Regions from separate parts of the Homo sapiens genome. Here region 1 is linked to region 2. The links come from fine-mapping of genetic effects on gene expression. A gene starts in region 2. The other region holds a variant in brackets. All regions are shown on one strand. Distances are from middle to middle. Region 1 overlaps SLC10A7 (solute carrier family 10 member 7). Region 2 holds the start of SLC10A7 (solute carrier family 10 member 7).

Evidence for each region. PIP is the estimated chance that this variant, and not a neighbour inherited with it, causes the effect. A credible set is the group of variants that fine-mapping cannot tell apart.
Region 1: its variant is the best candidate, but not a certain one, in a credible set for the expression of SLC10A7 in iPS cells (iPSCORE, PIP 0.52).

Annotation. Positions count from the first base shown.
Region 1 is chr4:146,451,322-146,455,321 of GRCh38, reverse strand. All of the region lies in intron 4 of SLC10A7 (solute carrier family 10 member 7), which reads left to right. Among named protein-coding and RNA genes, the nearest start is that of MIR7849, 45 kb to the right of the region's middle. The variant TAC/C (reference allele first, on the strand shown) is at 2,285.
Region 2 is chr4:146,520,100-146,524,611 of GRCh38, reverse strand. SLC10A7 (solute carrier family 10 member 7) reads left to right here and starts at 2,672. Exons shown (of 12, transcript NM_001029998.6): 1 at 2,672-2,994. The coding sequence starts at 2,895. RefSeq lists enhancers at 1,825-1,904, 2,075-2,494, 2,505-2,584, 2,805-2,874, 3,315-3,544.

The DNA.
Region 1 (4,000 bases), 69 kb after region 2:
TAATTGATCAGAAAAGTGCTTGTTGTATTTCACTAGGAGATATTGGAAAAGCCCATTTTAAAGTTAATTTCTGTGCTGCCATAACTCTTTGATACCATTGATCTTCTTGTATTGTAGTTATTATGATGTCTGTCTTCTAGCCCTAGACTGTGAGTTGGTACTCTATGGTATTTATTTTTGTGTTTGCTTAATAAATTTAGGTTGAAGGAATGAATAATTAGAGAAGCATTTGTTTTATTCTTTTCTGGAAGAGATAGGAAACCCAAAGGATTAAGAAGAATTAAACTTGAGGAATACTGAGAAATTGATTTTTTAAAAGATATAATATCAAATAGTATATAACATTTTAAGTAAGTTTCATTCAGCTTAATCTTAGAGATTTACAATAAAAATCTTAGATATTTATCAATAAGCTATTAATGGATAAATAGTATAAATAAATAGTATTTTCAATTTAAGTGTTGGTATTCTGGGTTATACCCATGGTTTGTTCCTGTGAATATTCAGTGTTAGCATAGCAAAGAAGACTAAGTAGTTTAGTCTTTTAACTACTTTTAAGTAGTTTCCTTTTGGTATTATCTTCAATTCATTCAATTTTTAGTCAGACATTGAGCATCTAATATGTGCACAGCATTGTTCAAAGTTTGCCTAAAGATTAAAGAGAGAGCCTCTAAAATTCTTAACATAATTCTAGGAGAAGCACAAAGGAAAAAATATTCATAATTCCATTTACCCCAACATAACCATTAGTGTTTCAGCATATGCCCTTTTTCCATGATATATCTGCAAATGTCTGTTAAAAATAATATATAAAACAGACAGTGTGGATGTAATAGAGAGGGTGCAAGAGATGTCTGGAGATGAATTCTATTCTGGCTTTACTGCTGTCCAGTATGACCTTGGAAAAGATCCTTTGCCTGTCTGGAGTTCTGTTTCTTGATTAACAAAGGGATTGTCATAGTATTTAATGGCCTCTCCCACTTAAAAATTCTGATTTTATAGAAATTGAACACCTTTGAAGACTGAGATTTCAGGAGGATGCAATCAAAATGTTTGATTAAGTTTAATTTCACCTCAATTATAAGGCAGATTTTAAAATCTTGAATTAAATATTTCTTGCTAATATTAGGTATTGTTATTGTGAACCTGTAACCCTTAAAGTAACAAATTTCTTCCCAGAACTAGAACAACAATCTGAATTGATGAGCTTATTTGAACTGATAATTATGTTTTTAGGAAAATGTTGAAACAATTCTTTTAAGCTCTTAAAAAGTATTCTACTAGAAATAAGAAATACAGAATCATCACTATTTTAAGTACATGACATTTCATCAAAAAAGCATACCAAAGAGAAATCAAAGCAGCTATGTTACTTCATTGTTTTTGCACCTCAGGAAAATTGATTTTGCCCTTCCTCTCTTGCCCCATGCATATTGTGAAAATGTAGATTGGTATGCACGAACTATTGCATATTGTGTACCAGGGCTTTAAAAGTGTTAAAAGGTGTCTGTTTTGTCTTAGAAGGGTCAGTTTGCACATTAAATGATTTTTGTTGAACAGTTAAGATGTCCTTTTACTTTTACTGTTTTGTACTAGAATTTTTTGTATGCGTTTTAACGGTTATTTAAGAGTCCCCATGTGCTTAGAAAGGAATCTGAATATATGTGCCTTTTTAAAAAAAGCCTCAGCACAATGTAGGTTATTCCATCAATACCATCAAATGACTGAGAGCTGTAGTTGGAACAATATGTAAAAATACAGCTTGTGAAAGATTTCCTTTATTAACTGTCATCATCCACAGAATATATGTTCAAATAAACGTTGTGCAATAACTAAATTTGAGATTAATAGGCCCCTTAAGAAACAGAGAAGTCATTCAGAATAGTCAGTGAAAAATAGGCTGTAAGACTGTAACATGCACATATTGTCCTGCTTATGTGCTCTCTCTGGTGTCATTCCCATTTATCACTGTCGGCCGGCTCTGTTCTCATTAAAACACTCTTGCACAAAAGCAACTTAATTTTCTTAAGAGGAGAGGACACCTGATTCAATTTAGCACCCAGAAAACAGTAACTTGAATATATTTTTTTCCTTACCTGAATTGAGATGAATAGTTACAAACAAGGATAGCAACCCCCTATTCACCTCAAGATTTAGAATATTAAATAATTTTTTCCACTGGTGTCAAGAAATGAACCTGTAGAAATAGGCAAGAAATGTAGCTTGCTCCTCATGTCAAACATTCACTCTTAACTTGAAGATTGTATATTTATATATATATATA[TAC/C]ACACACACACATTGTATATATCTATAAATCTATATCTGTATATAGTATACATACTTCTGTTAATTCCTGTAATATTTTAAAACAAAGAATTAAAATTAATCTTTCTTTAAATTGGTGAATGCTTTGCAGCAGTATTAAGTCTTCATTTAGCTTTCTTTGTTGAGAGAAAATATTCAGTAATGGTTTAAGTAATATTCAGTAATTTAAGTAATGGTACTTAAAAAATACAATGATATATATAAAAATGGTATCACATTAAAAGTGCCCTCTTAATATTGAGCGTAGTGTATAAATCCGCATTTTGATTGATATCCTGAATATGTTTACTTTTCTGTGGTATGTTGTAGTAATACTTAAATATGACATAGAAATGTAGAATTCAAATTTTTCTTGTAATGAGGGCTCTTCAGTGAAAATAGTGGTAATTAAGTAGTCAATAGTAAAACTAGCAACTAAGTTGCATAAGAGAAAGTCAATCATAATTGGCTTTGAAAGAAGCAATAAATATTTCTTATTTTTTTGACTTTTTATAGCACTTTAGAAAGTGCCTTACAGATAGAATGAAAATGTTTTGTGTTTTCATATTTAATTGAAGATCAAGTATTGGAATTCAGTCTTTGATGTTTTAGTCTTCATGTGTTTTTAAAACTGAATCTATGCTTAGGGAGAAAATAAATATTAAGGCTGTTTCTCCTTCCTGCGAATCAAAGCCTGATGGGATATAAATTCACATAGTTGAAGAACTTTTCTAGGGTAAGGCAATTTAGCTTTGACCTCCAACAATTGTGGCCAATAGTCAGTTTTCTCTTCCTTATTTTCAATGATGTCATATGCAATAGGAACAAGAGATTATACTAAATAAGATTTAATGTGCCTACTCAAGCTCATATTTTAGAGGAAATAGTTTTTTATTTATCTGATCTGCCGGAGTAGTCCTTTATTATTTTTTCCTTGTTTAGGAACATGGTGGTGTCAGGCTTCAAGTACCAGAAAATTAGACTAAAAGTGGCTTTAGCAAGGAGGGACTTATTTTTCTCATATACCAAGATGCCTGGAGGTAGAGGCTGCTGGCGTTTATTCTGCGGCTCAGTGACATTAGAGTGGCTATCTCTCCAGTGCTCTTATGGATGCAAGATAGCTTTTGCTGCTCTCGGCAGGAAGAAGTGTCAGTACCAGAAACTAACCTCCCTCCCTAAGCCCCCACCATCAAGCATATATCACTTTTTATCTCATTGGCCAGAACTTTGCTGCATGGAAATCCCTAGCTTTTCTTTTGTCTTATCTTAAGGTGTGTAACTTCTATCTAAGGTGTGTAACTTCTATACCTAATTTGTTGAGAATTTTTATCATGAAGAGATGTCGAATTTTATGAAATGCATTTTCTGCATCTATTGAGGTAATCATGTGGTTTTTGTCCCTCATTCTATTGATGTGGTGTGCCACATGTATTGATTTGCATGTGTTGAACCATCCTTGCATCCCTAGGATAAATCCCAGTTGATCATGGTGTACTATTGTTTTGATGTGCTGTTGGATTCCATTTGCTAGGATGTTGTTGAGGATTTTTGCATCTGTGTTCATCAGGGATATTAGCCTGTAGTTTTCTTTTTGTGTTGTGTCCTTGTCTGGTTTGGTATCAGGGTAATGCTGACCTCATAGAATGAATTAGGAAGGATTCCTTCCTCTTCAGTTTTTTTTTGGGTAGTTTGAGAA
Region 2 (4,512 bases):
TACCACTGTGTTGCAACTGCCTACAGTATTCAGTATAGTAACATGCTGTATAGGTTTGCAGCCTAGGAACAATAGGCTATACCATATAGTCTAGGTGTGTTGTACACTACATTATTTAGGTTTGTGTAAGTACACTCTATGATGTTTCTCTAATGATGAAATCGTCTAACCATACATTTCTCAGAATGTAACCCGGTGGTTAAGCAATGCCTGACTGTATTAATTATTGTTCATCTCTTATTGTGCCTAATAATATAAACCAAAAATTATCATCATAGGAATGTATGTATAAGAAAAAATACCATAGCATATATAGATAGGGTTCAGTACAACCAGCAGTTTCAGGCATCTACCTAAGGTTCTTGGAATGTATCCTTTCAGGATAAGGGGGGACTACTGTGATTGAGTTAAGGCTCTTGAGAGATCATTTTGGATTATCTGGGTAGGCCCTAAATCCAATGACAAGTGTCTTTATAAAAGATACACAGAAAAGGAGGTGCAACGTGAAGATGGATGCAGAAACTAGAATAATGTGGCCACTAGAAAGAAATACAGAGGGGAATGTGATGTGAAAACAGTGGCAGAGATTGGAACACTCTAGCTACAAGCCAAGGAAGGCACCACCAGAAACTAGAAAAGGCAAGGAAGGACTCTCCCCTAGAGCCTTCAGCGGGAGTATGGCTCTGCCAAAATCTTGATTTTGGACTTCTGTCCTCCAGAACTGTGAGATAATAAATTTCTGTTGTTTGAAGGCATCCAAGTTCGAGTATTTGTTTCAGCATCCACAGCAAACAAATACAGGCCTTAAGAGAATATAATTCATGGTACATTATATTCTTTTCCTTTAAGTACCATTAAAAACAGAACAAAAAAATCTCTGAGTTAGATTCTGCTCTACACAGATCAAAGAGGTATTAGTAAATAATTTGTGAATAGCTGTACAGTTAAAACAGCTCAATTTCTGTAAACTTAATGTTTAATGATGTTTTAATACAAAACTATCCCTTCAATGACTGAGACGTATGACTCTTTAACCTACTAAGAAATTACTATAAGAAAATAATTATGTTGTAAACTATCTTTCATTTATCTTCACTTATCTTCTGACTGCCTGACAACTAACATCAAATTTTATATTTCATGTACCTGTCTCTTTTCAGAGTAAACTGCTTAATGTCATCTATGTCTCCCTGTTAAGTTCTTTTTATCTTGAAATTAATTTTTTTTCATGTTGCCTGATGTATAATTAGATGACACTTGGTACTGTGTAACCTACAACTGGGAGCACAACTCTTAAAGTGGCTTAGTTTCTGGAAGTCTTGCCATCAAGATAAAGCTAAATTAAATAGAGGAAATGACACGACGAGTGTCTTTCCAGCTTTGAATAAATTCAGAATTAAAGTCTGTCATCACGAAACAATCTCTTCCAAACCTTAAGTTCTATTTTTAACCATTTAAGTGGCAGATGCCAGGTTATTTCAAAATATCACATACTATTTTCTTTCTTTCTTCATTTGGATGAATGATACAGTGGAGTTCATGCTCTTGCAGGGTCTACCGGTAGGAAGTCCATTCATGAAACCATCAATGTCACTGGTTGCCACAAGACATTTCAAGGAAGAAACTGGCAGATAGAACTAGCACTCGTGGCAATGGAAGGTAGGACTCCCCAACCTCTCAGACTCAATCCCCCACCACTTCCGCGTTGGAATCCGCGACCCTCTTCCCAGAGTTTTCCTGTGGCTTGGGTAGGTCAGCCCTGGGGGCGAGCCAGAGCGGGCACCCGCGCGCCCAGGGGCTTGCCAGCGCAGACCCCACTCCGCCCGCGAGTAGCTTAGTTGGTGGGGAGACTTCAGCTGTCACTCTCGGCCCGCAAAGGCAGATCTGCCCCGATCCCTGCAGCCCTCCCCAGTCCCGGAGACAGGTGTGGGCCGCAGAGGGAAGGGGATCCGGACCAAATGCCCACCCGCAGGCGAGCGACCTGGCGAGGTCGGGCCCACCTTCCTTGGGTTGTAGCGGACGCCGGCAAGCAGGGGTCCAGCGAACGTGGGCATCTGCCCGGCGCCGGATTTTCAACCCACCGCCAGAGATAAGGCTCCCCGCCCACCAGCGAGCCACTTTCCCGCGCGGACACCTCTAACTCCGGCAGCTCAGGCTGGGAACTCGGAGATCCAGAGTGGCCTCCCCTCCCCCCCGCGCATACGTCAGCGCTAGCGTCGTGGAAGCGCCGTAATGTCCCGAAGAAGCGCGTCTCCAAACTTGCACCCCGCTGCCGCAGCTTCAACGGAGAAATCCCTTGCCCCAAGCACACGTCAGCCCTGCCCGCGGAGTCATGGCACAGCAAAAGAGAGGCTCTCCATGGAGATATGCTCCAGAAGGGTGGGTGGCTGTGCCTAAAGGTTTGTTAGAAAAGGACAGTCAGTGAGGCTTGCTGGCTGTGGCGCCTTACGACGCTCTCCCCGACCCCTCGTCATTCAGAAGGTTCCGCAGGTCTCGACAGCGGTGCGCTTGTCAGCCCCATCCGGCGGCCAGCCTCCCTTGCCGGATCGCCCACGTTGTCGGCCTGGTCCGAGTTCTTCATTTCAAAGCATCTGCACCTGCGAGCCCGCGGCCAGAGGCGCTGGGGGCGTTTGTGCGCGTGTATTCTGAGGCGCGTGGTAGTGATGGCGGCGCTCAGTGAGACTTTCCTGTCACTGGCTACTACTACTCCCAACCCTCCTCAAAGCCGCCGGAGCAACCCCCAGGTCTTTACTTTACAATCGGCAATTTGACTTGCTCTGCTGCATGTCTGGAGGGACCAAGGAAAGTGTGGAGACGCTCCAAGGATTAGGTGATCGGAGCTTGAAAAGAAAAAAAGCCAAACAAATAAACAAAACCCACCCACCCTAACAAATATGAGGCTGCTGGAGAGAATGAGGAAAGACTGGTTCATGGTCGGAATAGTGCTGGCGATCGCTGGAGCTAAACTGGAGCCGTCCATAGGGGTGAATGGGGGTAAGTGCTGCACCTCTGCCGGCTCCACCGCGGCTCCCACTTCAGAACTAATTTGTGAGTCTTGGAAAGGTGGGGCAACCCTCATTGCAAGCGCTTGCCAATTTCAGGGGGCACTGACCAGCCTTTGGCCCTTTTGCTGATTTTCTAATTTACCAACCCCAGAGGGAACTTGTAATTAGGAACGAGGCAAAGGAATTTGAGGGCAGGTAGCCTTTTCCGTAGACAAACAATGACTATCCTGAGTGTCAAGAAGTGAGGTTACAGAGAATGAAACTTACTCCTCTTGCCTTCAAAGTAGCATCCTATCCCAAGGGAATCTAGGTTGCTAAGAGTTCCGTATCTATCTTGGAGTGGACCTCATTATCGAGTCTACTTTCGAGTCCTCCCCGCCCCCACATTAAAAAAAAAAGTGGAGGAAAAACAAGAAAAGGGACACCTCCGCCCCCAACTCAGATTTTATGGCCCACATGTTGGAGAGTGATGATTTGCTGTAGTTGCTGGTGCTCCAGAAACTCCCAAGCCGACTGACACGTTGCACTCTTTGATTACAGGACACTTCATTACAGCATACTTCCGTGTGCTGCCGGGATTCAGTTGCTATACTAGCAGTCTAACAGATACAGACTGTTAGACTATGTGTAGTGTAGTGTAGTGTGTGTTTTGGCAAGGAAATGTGGATGGACTGAAAGCATACTTAGATCTCTGAATAGTGGGAGCTTTGTACAGGAGATGATGGGCACTGGTGGGAACATTAGAAATATTAGTTTTTTATGCCCCCCCCAACACCTTTAGACAATCTTGTACTACTTTTCATAAACATTAATTGAATTTATTCAATTCGCTTGTCTTTTTGACCTTGTTTGTCAGTTTCCAAGCTTATTGACAGGTTTAATACCTAACTCATGCAACCGGAGCAAATAAGGATAGAGGTGAACAGGCACAATATTTCATAGTAGGAAGCGCTCAGGAGGATATTTGAAGTTATTTTTATCTTTTTGTTAAAACATGATGGAAGTGAATGAAATGATCTCTTAGGAGAACAGCAGTGGTCCCTTCTCCCCTTAACCTCCACCCCATTACTCTGTTTAGAAGTAGCTTCCGGGAACATTTTAAAAGGAATTATTTAAACCAAAATTGTGGAGATGAAGGATTGTTTGTTTTAAAATTTTGTTCTTCTGTATTCAACTTAGAACAAAATGTGTAGAATATGTAACTGTGAGAATAAAGCAGTTATTCCTGGTGGTTTCTCCCTCTGATTGATGGTAATAGTTTCTTCTTTAACACTGCTGCTCTGTGAACTTTTGGGAAACTCTTGTGAAGATCAGGTCTGTCAAATGAAGACCCCCTATCCCCGGAGCTAAATGAATAGTAAGACTTAGAGTACCTTTGCATGATCTGCAATGCACACTTCACTAGCTATCGCTTCTCGTGTTAGATCTCTTATTTGCTCAGTTTTGAGATGAAATTACAGAGGATGTATGATCTTTAACTTTAAATCTGCAGGGGCTAAGTTTGGCA